2 separate regions of the Homo sapiens genome follow, and region 2 is linked to region 1. A link means that fine-mapping ties the variant in region 1 to the expression of a gene that starts in the linked region. Tissue or cell type: adrenal gland. Region 1 holds a variant in brackets; the other region holds the start of a gene. All regions are shown on one strand. Distances are from middle to middle.

What was found. PIP is the estimated chance that this variant, and not a neighbour inherited with it, causes the effect.
Region 2: it holds the start of SOX6, and the variant in region 1 is fine-mapped to the expression of SOX6 in adrenal gland (GTEx, PIP 0.91).

Annotation. Positions count from the first base shown.
Region 1 is chr11:16,062,804-16,067,958 of GRCh38, reverse strand. All of the region lies in intron 9 of SOX6 (SRY-box transcription factor 6), which reads left to right. Among named protein-coding and RNA genes, the nearest start is that of MIR6073, 96 kb to the right of the region's middle. RefSeq lists a cis regulatory region at 2,758 and an enhancer at 2,686-2,830. The variant T/C (reference allele first, on the strand shown) is at 2,758.
Region 2 is chr11:16,353,360-16,358,514 of GRCh38, reverse strand. It overlaps SOX6 (SRY-box transcription factor 6), which reads left to right and starts at 1,969. Exons shown (of 16, transcript NM_001367873.1): 1 at 1,969-2,421. RefSeq lists an enhancer at 971-2,284.

The DNA.
Region 1 (5,155 bases):
AGGGTAAGAGATAATGTCTTTCAGTAGCACTGATTGAATCTGTTTCTATAGAATAGTAATTTTTTTTCTTCCTTTCTTTATCCTCTACAAATAGGAAGGTAGTATTTGAAGGGGAATTTTTTTAAATTGAAATTTTAATTTTTGTGGGCACATAGTAGGTGAATATTTATTTCATGTATGAGATACATGAAATGTTTGGATATGGACATGCAATGCATAATAATCACATCATATAATGTGGGGTATCCATCCTCTCAAGCATTTATCCTTTGTGTTACAAACAATCCAGTTACACTATTTTAGTTATTTTTAAAATGTACATTTAAATTATTATTGACTTGCATTAGTCCATCCTCATGCTGCTAATGAGGACATACCAGAGACTGGGTAATTTATAAAGAAAAAGAGGTTTAATGGACTCAGAGTTCCACATGGCTGGGAAGGCCTCACAATCATGGCAGAAGGTGAAGGAGGAGCAAAGGCACGTCTTACATGGTGTCAGGCAAGAGGGTGTGTGCAGGGGAACCGCTCTTTATAAAACCATCAGATCTCCCAAGACTTATTCACTATCATGAGAACAGCACGGGAAAAACCCAGCCCCCATGTTTCAATTACCTCTCACTGGGTCCCTCCACAACACATGGGGATTATGGGAACTACAATTCAAGATGAAATTTGGGTGGGGACACAACAAAACCATATTATTTTGCCCCAGTCTCCTCCCAAATCTCATGTCTTCACATTTCAAAACACAATCATGCCTTTCCAGCAGTCTCCCAAAGTCTTAACTCATTCCAGTATTAGCCCAAAAGTCCAAGTCTAAAGTCTCACCTGAAACAAGGCAAGTTTCTTCTTCCTATGAGCCTGTAAAATCAGAAGCAAGTTAGTTAATTCCTAGATACAATGGGAGTAACAGGCATTGGGTAACTTCACCCATTCCAAATGGGAGAAATTGGCCAAAACAAAGGGGCTACAGGCCCTATGCAAGTCTGAAATCCAGCAGGGCAGTCAAATCTTAAAGCTTCAAAATGATCTTCTTTGACTCCATGTCCCACATCTAGGTCAAACTGATGCAAAAGGTGGGCTCCTATGGCCTTGGGCATGACTATAGTCACCCTGTTGAGATATCAACTTAGGTCTTATCCATTCTTTCTATTTATCTGTACCTATGAACCATCCTTACCTGCCCCAAACCCTCCCATTATCCTTCCTAGCCTCTGATAACCATCTTTCTACTCTCTATCTCCATGAGCTCAATTGTTTTGATTTTTAGATCCATAAATAAGTGAGAACACATGATGTTTGTCTTTCTGTGCCTGGCTTACTTCCCTTGGCATAATGACCTCCAGTTCCATCATGTTGTTGCAAATGACAATCTCATTTTTATATGACTGAATAGTACTCCACTGTGTATAAGTACCACATTTTCTTTACTCATTCATCTGTTGATGGACACTTAGATTGCTTGCAAACTTTGGTATTGCAAACAGTGCTGCAATAAACATGGGGATGCGGATATCTCTTTGATATACTGATTTCCTTTCTTTTAGGCATATACCAGCTGTGGGACTGCTAGATCATATGGTAACTCTATTATTAGCTTTTTGAGGAACCTCCAAATTGTGCTCCATAGTGGTTGTACTAATTTACATTCTCACCAACAGTGTACAGGGATTCCCATGTTTTTGCCAGCGTTTGTTATTGACCGTCTTTTGGATATAAGTCATTTAACTGGGGTGAGATGATAATGTCATTGTAGTTTTGATTTACATTTCTCTGACTAGTGATGTTGAGCAACTTTTCATATGCCTGTTTGCCATTTGTATGTCTTCTTTTGAGAAACACCTATTCAAATATTTTACCCATGTTTTAATTGGATTAATATATTTTTTCCAAAGAGTTGTTTGAGCTCCTTATATATTCTAGTTATAAATCCCCTGTCAGATGAGTAGTTTGCAAATATTTTCTCCCATTATTGGGATTGTCTCTTCACTTTGTTGATTGTTTCCTTTGCTGTGCAGAAGATTTTTAACTTGGTTTGATTCTATTTGTCCATTTTTGCTTTGGTTGCCTGTTCTTGTGGGATATTACTCAAGAAATCTTTGCCCAGACCCATATCCTGGAGAGTTTCCTCAATGTTTGCTTGCAGTAGTTTCATACATTGAGGTCTTGTCTAAGAATTAAGTTTTTAATTCATTTGGATTTGATTTTTGTATAAGGCTAGTGATGGGGTCTAGTTTCATTCTTCTGCATATGAATATCCTGTCTTTCTAGCCCCATTTATTGAAGAGATTGTCTTTTCCCCAGCATGTATTCTTGGCAGCTTTGTTAAAAATGAGTTCACTGTAGGTGTGTGGATTTGTTTCTGGGTTCTCTATTCTGTTCCATTGGCCTATGTGCCTGTTTTTATGCCAGTACTATGCTGTTTTGGTTACTATAAGTTTTAGGATTTTTTTTCTATTTCTGTGAAGAATGTCATTGGTATTTTGATGTGGATTGCATGGAATTTCTAGATTGTTTTGGGTAGCATGGACATTTTAACAATATTGATTCTTCCAATTCATGAACACAAAATATCTTTCCATTTTTTGATTTCCTCTTCACTTTCTTTCATCAGTATTTTATAGTTTTCCTAAGAGAGATCTTTTACTTTTTTAGTTAATTTTTAGGCATTTAATTTTATTTGTGACTATTGTAAGTGGCATTACTTTTTAATTTCTTTTTCAGATTGTTCACTGTTAGAATATAGAAATGCTA[T/C]TGATTTTTACATGTTGATTTTATATCCTGCAACTTTGCTGAACGTATTTATCAGTTCTAATAGGGTTTTTGTGGAGTCTTCAGGTTTTTCCAAATATAAGATCATATCATCTGTAAACAAGGATAATTTGACTTCATCCTTTTCAATTTGGATACCCTTTGTTTTTTTCTCTTGTCTGATTGCTCTAGCTAGGACTTCCAGTAATATGTTGAATAACAGTGTTGAAAGTGGACATCTTTGTCATGTTCCAGATCTTAGAGGAAAGGCTTTCTGTTTTTCTCCATTGAGTATGGTATTTGCTGTGTGTCTGTCATATACGGCTTTTATTATATTGAGGCATATTCCTTCTATCCCCAGTTTTTTTAGGGTTTTTAAATCAGGAAGGGATGTTGAATTTTATCAATGCTTTTTCAGCATCAGTTGAAATGATCATATGATTTTTGTTCTTCATTCTGTTGATATGATGTATCACATTGATTGATTTGTATATGTTGCGCCATCCTTGCATCCCAGGGATAAATCCCACTTGGTCATGATGAATGATATTTTTTAATGTATTGTCAGACTTGGTTTACTAGTATTTTGTTGAGGATTTTTGCATCAATATTCATCAGAGGTAATATGGCTTCATATATATATATGGCTTCATATATATATATGGCTTCATATATATATATATATGTATGGCTTTGTCTGGTTTTGGTATCAAAGTAGTACTGGCCTTGTAGAATGAGTATGGAAGTATTCTGAGAGATGATTTTTATTTCTTTCTTTCCGGGGTGGATTCTGGTAGGCTACTTAATAAATTAATAAATTGAAATGACAGAGCACAGAAGAATCTATTCCTAAAAGAATTTGGTGTGTAAGGTTGTGCCTTCTTTTTTACTGTTAGTTTTTGTATACTGGAGCATACTGGTCCCAATTTAAAGCCCCCCTCAATTCCCATTTTATCAAGCTCTGTCTACTTATACTTTGCATAGTTCTTCTTTTTATCTTATCAGTCTATTAATGTGGGGTTAATTTTTTAGGGGTTTTCTACCATGGCTTGAAGATTTGGAGAAGGACATTTTCTAGATCTGATTGTGACACTTATTCCTTCAAGGTGACTGGTGGTGCTGTTACCTCTTTCTTGTCCATTTGAAGATTGTGAAATGCCATTTTAGAGAGTAACTGTAAGACATTTGAAAATACAATTTTCTGTTTGAGAGCTCAGAATAGCAGTCACATCATAATCTTTCTTCTCCTTGGACAGTGATCCTTTTCTGATGACTAGGAACAAGAAATTGGTTTCATTGTGGTTCACTGTGTAGCTTATTTAAAATAATTTAATTTTAAAAGCAGAAAGAATACAGGCTTAAAAGTAAGATTGACTAAAATGGATAATAATTTCTATCTTATATAATAATTGTGAAGATTAAATGAAATAATAAATGTAAAATATCCAGCCCAGTGCCTCACTGAGTTTAGTTCTCAATGTATATTTGTTGAATTAATGCATTAATGAATTGGGGTGATTATTGGAAAACTAGATGACTGGTTATGTTGCTACATGAAAATCATATGTTTATAATGAGAAAAGGCCTTGTACTTTTTCTGTTTGGCACACTCCATTAGAGATCCTAAATGATTGTATCATAGAAAGCAGGTATATATATATATATATATATATATATATATATATATATATATATATATATATATATAAAATTATGGTAAATATAGTTACATCGTGACACCACCCATTATAATTTGACATCAGTTTGGCTATATTTGGACAAAGCATGCTTCTCTTTTCAAATACAGTCATGGTATAACATCAATTACTGACACAATACATTTCTTAGGTCCTGCTATAGACCATTATGTGTACTGGAAGGCACTGAAGGGTTTCACCATGAGGCTGAGTCTGATTGGTAGGACCTACTGCTTTGGGTTAAATCTAAACAGGCTTGGTTATTAAAGTGTCACTAACATCCAAATGGAAGACAGATTTATCTTTAAAGCTAGCCACAGCACACAAAGCAGTGCAAATACTGTTAGAAGTATTTATTTGTGGATTGGTGAGATCTTCACAGGACTTTCTTAATTCAATTTATTTAAGAGATTGGTCAAATTTATCGATGCTGGATATGTGCTTGAAAGGTGCAAAACTTGTCTAATTTTATATCCATTTCTACTTTTAAGTGATAGATATTCTGGTAATGTTGAAGTGATAGCTAGAGAGTTCTTCTTCTAACTTCAATACTAATTATATGATCTTGGGCAAGCTACTTGCTAGATCTTAGCTCGTTGGCAGAATAAGGAAGTCAGACTAACCTAAATGATTTGATAATGTCCTTTCAGTTCTATGTGTCAAATATCTCATTGTTGAGCTTACCAAGATTTTAATGCTAGCTA
Region 2 (5,155 bases), 290 kb before region 1:
ATGTATATTTTAGTCATGTTGTGTTCTGTTCAGCTGCTAGATGTTCAAACCAACTGGGTTTCCCCTTAGTTACCCTGTTTGTTTGCTGTAACACTTTCCTGTTGGTAGAACTATTTGTTCTTTCATAATAAAATTGAGAATTTTCTTGTAAAATATATTTTTAAGGTAAAACAATGTAATGATTTGTCCTGGCATTCTATAATTTTGAAAGTCGTTGATGGCAGGAGAATGGCAGAGTGGAAGGATGTCTCCTAGTTATAGTTTTATTAGTAATGTGCTGATGTTTAATGGTTTATCAGGACTGAATTTATTTGAAAAGAAAACCATCTAATGTGGTCAGAGTCATCTTTTGTTCACTATGGCTCTGGCCCTTTTTGGGGAGTAAATCAGCTTTTTATGTATACATTCTGCATGGGAGCTGTAATAAGTGAGCACATGTTGCAAATGCTGTGACCTTCAGTCAACTAGAGAAAGATACCTCTTCTAATCAAAGGCAAAAGCCACGATCTTTCTTGTTGTAACTTACTGTTGACACAAGAAAGGCCAGAGAGATTGACATCAATCTCTATAGAAACCATTAACCAATGCTGAATAAATCTGCAGCATTGAATCCATATGCATGCTTGCTTTTATTATTCTTGACCTATGGGCACACTTCAGCATTTTGTGGGCTTTGTTTTAAAAGGAATGTTTAAAATGTAGCTAGTTATTATGGGATTTCGTTGGTGAAATAAATTGTTTGGGTAGTCTAAATAAAAGAATCCGTATTATTTTGCATCTACTAAGCATTATTTGTTTAGGTGTGGCTTGGTTTGATTCCAGATTAACACACAGCGAAGGCTGTCACTTTAGCTGGGTGTAGCAAAAACCAAGTAGTTTTATACATGTTTTCCAAATGATGTGCAAGCAATGTGTCATTTGATTCTAATTGTGACTTTATTGGCTTGTGGTCCCTCTTTTTTATTCTTTAAAGCATTAACAATGACTGTGTTGGCTGAAAAGACATACGTCTTTAAGAATTCCATGGATGCCCAAAACTCAGTTGGTTATAAGTACTAACAATTGCCGACCGTACGCATAGCAGAAATAGGCTCTGTAAATCAGAGCTTCAGTGCTCTGGGCCCCTCTTCCTTAATTCTCCCGCACAGAAATCGTATTTCTAGTTGAGGAGGGTGAGAAAACAAAAATGCTTTTCATTTCATTCTGTGCTGTACATTTTCCAGTCTGGGTGACTAAAGCTGGCCAGGGTGCCTATTTTTGGAAAGAGGAATTAAGATACTTTGGAGAAAGTAGTGCACTGTGTGCTGACATTCCAGATGGCCAAACTATAGTAGTACCAAGCCCAAGTTTTTGAGCCTTTCGTGCCAATGATGACCTCATGAGGTCCAGCCTGGAGAAATAGAGACATAGTTCTCCAACAATGATGAAGAATGGCTTCTTCCTTTCATATTTCTATTGAGTGATCTCCAGTGTCCTCCTCTTTTCCTGTCTCTGACAAAATTAGCCTTTTATAATTAACAATTGTTAGTTTTTTGGCTTGTCTTTCAGACTTCTCTTAGAGTCCCTTTCACCCCATCTACTTATTGTATCCTCTCTACCAAACAGAAAAACTTGTGATATTTTTCTCTTTGGCATTCCTGTCTTTTCCTAGCAGGCTTTTTTAATGGGGACTGTGGGAGATTTTACACTTGATTTGTTGAATCTGAACTCTTTGCTGTAAACTCTCACCACACAGAAGAAACTATCTTTATAAATGACAGAATGGACCTGGCCTGAATGGCGCTTTGTTTACTGTTTTCCTAAAAGGGGCCCCTCTATATTTCATCTGTCAAAGTTGCTTTTCTTTCTTTCAACAATGCTTGATTGTTTTCACAAAAATTCAGGTTCCATAGACAGGAGAATTCTGTATTATATTTTCCTGCCAAATTCCGATCTCTGTTTTCCTTCCCCTGTGCTCACAAAGGGCTCATAACTTACTGTCAACTGTGAGGCAAACCACAAAGCTCCACTGTTGCTCAGCAAATAGGCTCTATTGGATGATGGCTTGACTAGCTTGTAAAGTTTGCTTAACTGTAGCAGCAGTGGCAGAAGGTATGTGGGGTACTGTATCTCCCAACAGGCCAAGAGATTTCACTTCTTTCATTTACTTTTATGTTTTTAACTCCTTTAATTGTTGAACAAAGTTAACAGTGTTTTGTTTAGCAAATTAGATGTTGCTTAAAGTTATGGCTACAATTGGTAGCCTGAGACTTGGCAGAGATTAATTAGCTGTGGGGTTGGGTTTTTTTTTTTTTTGGTTGGCAGTCAGAGGTTTCTTGTGATTTGGGAAGGTGTCAAAGGTGTTATGCCCTCAAGTTCTGAAGTTCTGGCTGATGTGGTAAGAGAAAGCCGGATTGAAGAGTGGAAGAGCAGCCACTTCATGTGAGTGATTTGTGCTTCCTTTAGCTGTCACAGGTCTTGGCTGTATTACTTTACCTTTTAATTTTTCTAACTTCAAAGCCTACCTGATTGGGTGGGATGATGGCTTGTTAAGAAAAGCTTATGTTATGGTAATAAGGTAATAACTTGAAAAGCATTTTTGCATGACATTTGTAATCTTGCTAGGGAATTGCAACAGACTATTTAAAAACAGATTTGGTTTTCCTGAGGGTTGAATATGCATACCTTTATTTGTAGCATCTCGTAGATTTTTAACATGTGATTATTTTTTCTGTATAATCTAAGGTCCTGAGTACTATTATCTATGAGGAATCATAGATTCCCTACATGAATCTTTTCAATAAAATCAATCTTTCCAATATACACGGCTAGTTTCTAATATATGCTGCATCTGATAAGGTATTTTATGCACTATGGTAAAAGATGTTTTTACTAATGAAAATATTTAATCATAATAAACATTTCAAAGAAACACAACTGACAAGCAGACCACTGGGTAATTGCTGATGTGTTTTTAGTAAAAACTTAAAATTATTAATGTTCATAAGCTGCTATAACTAAGCAAGACTGGTATTACATTGAGATTTATAGTATTTAATGCTATAACTATGTATTGAAAGTATTATTTATATAAAACTATAGTAAATTAAATTGATGATTGGCAAGTGCATTAAAAATAGTGCTTTATCAATGCTTTTCAATTTACTCCTTTTTATTCTGCGATACATTTCTTTTGAATTTTTCTGAGTAACACACACCTTGAATTTGTTTTCCATCATGCCTGTCAAAGTTCAAAATATTAATTTGTTTCTTTCCTTATCCAGCTTTCCTAGATACCTTATTGTTTGTGAGTTTGGTCTTTAGGCAAGTTTATCTTGATGATGGAACTTTCAGCTTCAAATTGTGGAAATAGTGATCTCAAACTACACATGGAATAGTGTGTCATTGTTCTAAGCTGTGGTACAGTTAATAATACCTATTTTGTGATAATGAATTGACCAGAATACCAAACAGTTAGTCTAGCAAATCTATGACTCCTCAAGTTGATTTTCTAAAGTGAATTGTGAGAGGAGAATTTTAAGGTAAGCTGCTTTCAATCAGCTCATGAGAATGTGCTGGGGTTCTTTAGCACACTAGTAGCAACTTGATTTTAGACCTGATTTAGAAATAAAAAAAAATTGTGTGAAACAAGTAACATTTTGGAACATTTAGTGTTGGGCCAGGGGACAAGAAAATAATCAGGCTTTGAAAGGTATTCATGTATTTCATAGGATAGGGTAGCTCAGACTTTTTATTTATTGTCAAGTTAATTTAAGCTCTGGTAGCAATTTTAGTATACTGCAAGGCTGCTTCTGTTTAAAAATTAATTCTGAGCAAATGGGTTACAGTCTCCAAATACTTGGACCGTTTTAGTTGAAAATCAAGGAAAGAGGTTAATAATAGGTGGTTTGAATAGGCACCTACAGCTCAGGACTCTATTGTCCTTAGGAATACAGTTATCAGCAGCAGATGCTGTAGGCTTTGGTCTTCCCTGTGTAAAAAGTGATTCCCTCCTGTCCATACCCCTTTTGAGAAACAGTAACAATATATTTTTACCCTGTGCTTTTTATTTTCTTGGCATGGTTCTTGTCATTAGTTCACTCAGCACTGGGTCACGAGTATATTGGGACTGGAAAACTTATATTCCGTGGAATTTTTATTTATTGTGATGTGTAAAAATTCAGAATCTTTTTCTTTAAGGATTTTTATTTGTTTTTGTTTGAGTCAAACCATTTTTCTGTCAAGTTTTCTTTAAAGAAAGTTAGCATTTGTTTCATAACTACCAAATACCAGGTATTTGCACATATATCAAATTAATCTCTTCACAACAACTTTTCAAGGAAGATGTGTTGTCCCTAATTTTATAGATGGGTACATAGAGACTCAGAGAGTTAAGTAACTTCTGAAGTTCACAGACATAGTAAATGAGATTTAAGTCTTTCCTCTAAACCTTTCCATTATACTGTACTTTTCCTTCTGGCAATAGATCCTGGTAAGACTGGTAGCAAGCAGTTTTCCAGTTCTAGGCACCATGGATGCAAATAAAGTATTACTTTTGAAGAAATCTAAAAAGCTGGTAGATTAGGCATGATAAATGTAAAAGTTTTTCAGGGGACTACTCAATTTTGGGAAATCGTGAGGTGGAGGTGGTGGTTATATGAGAAGAAAGAACAGGACCAGATAAATAATGCAGGATTCTTTCCTATAACTAACACCACAGCTTGGGAAAACCAGAAATTCTGTACCTTGGTAGGTGTGCAAATATGTACTTGGTAAAGAATCCCTTAAGTATGCAAGACAGCAGGTAGTCATACTTGTCTTTTATAATGATAACTCAAACAATTCTGTGCAATGATTCATGGAAACAATTGGATTCTCATGTTCTCCTGGAGCTGTTTATGATAATTCCAGCAAATGCAAGTGAGAAATTTAAAGCAAATAGCTATAAGAAAGGGAGGAGGTGGTGGAAGTACAGAGGGAGAAATACAAGATAGCAGCACTTTAGTTATTTGTGAAACCAGACTGTTTGGTGTGTATAAAAAAATGTGGAAATTTGGGTTGGTGGTAAAAACCTTTCTTCAGCTTTCACAGACAATTATAATTTATAAGAATTCATGTCCTCATATGAGAGGCTTTTCTATTTCTTTTCCTCAGAAGTTAGGATATATGTAATGTT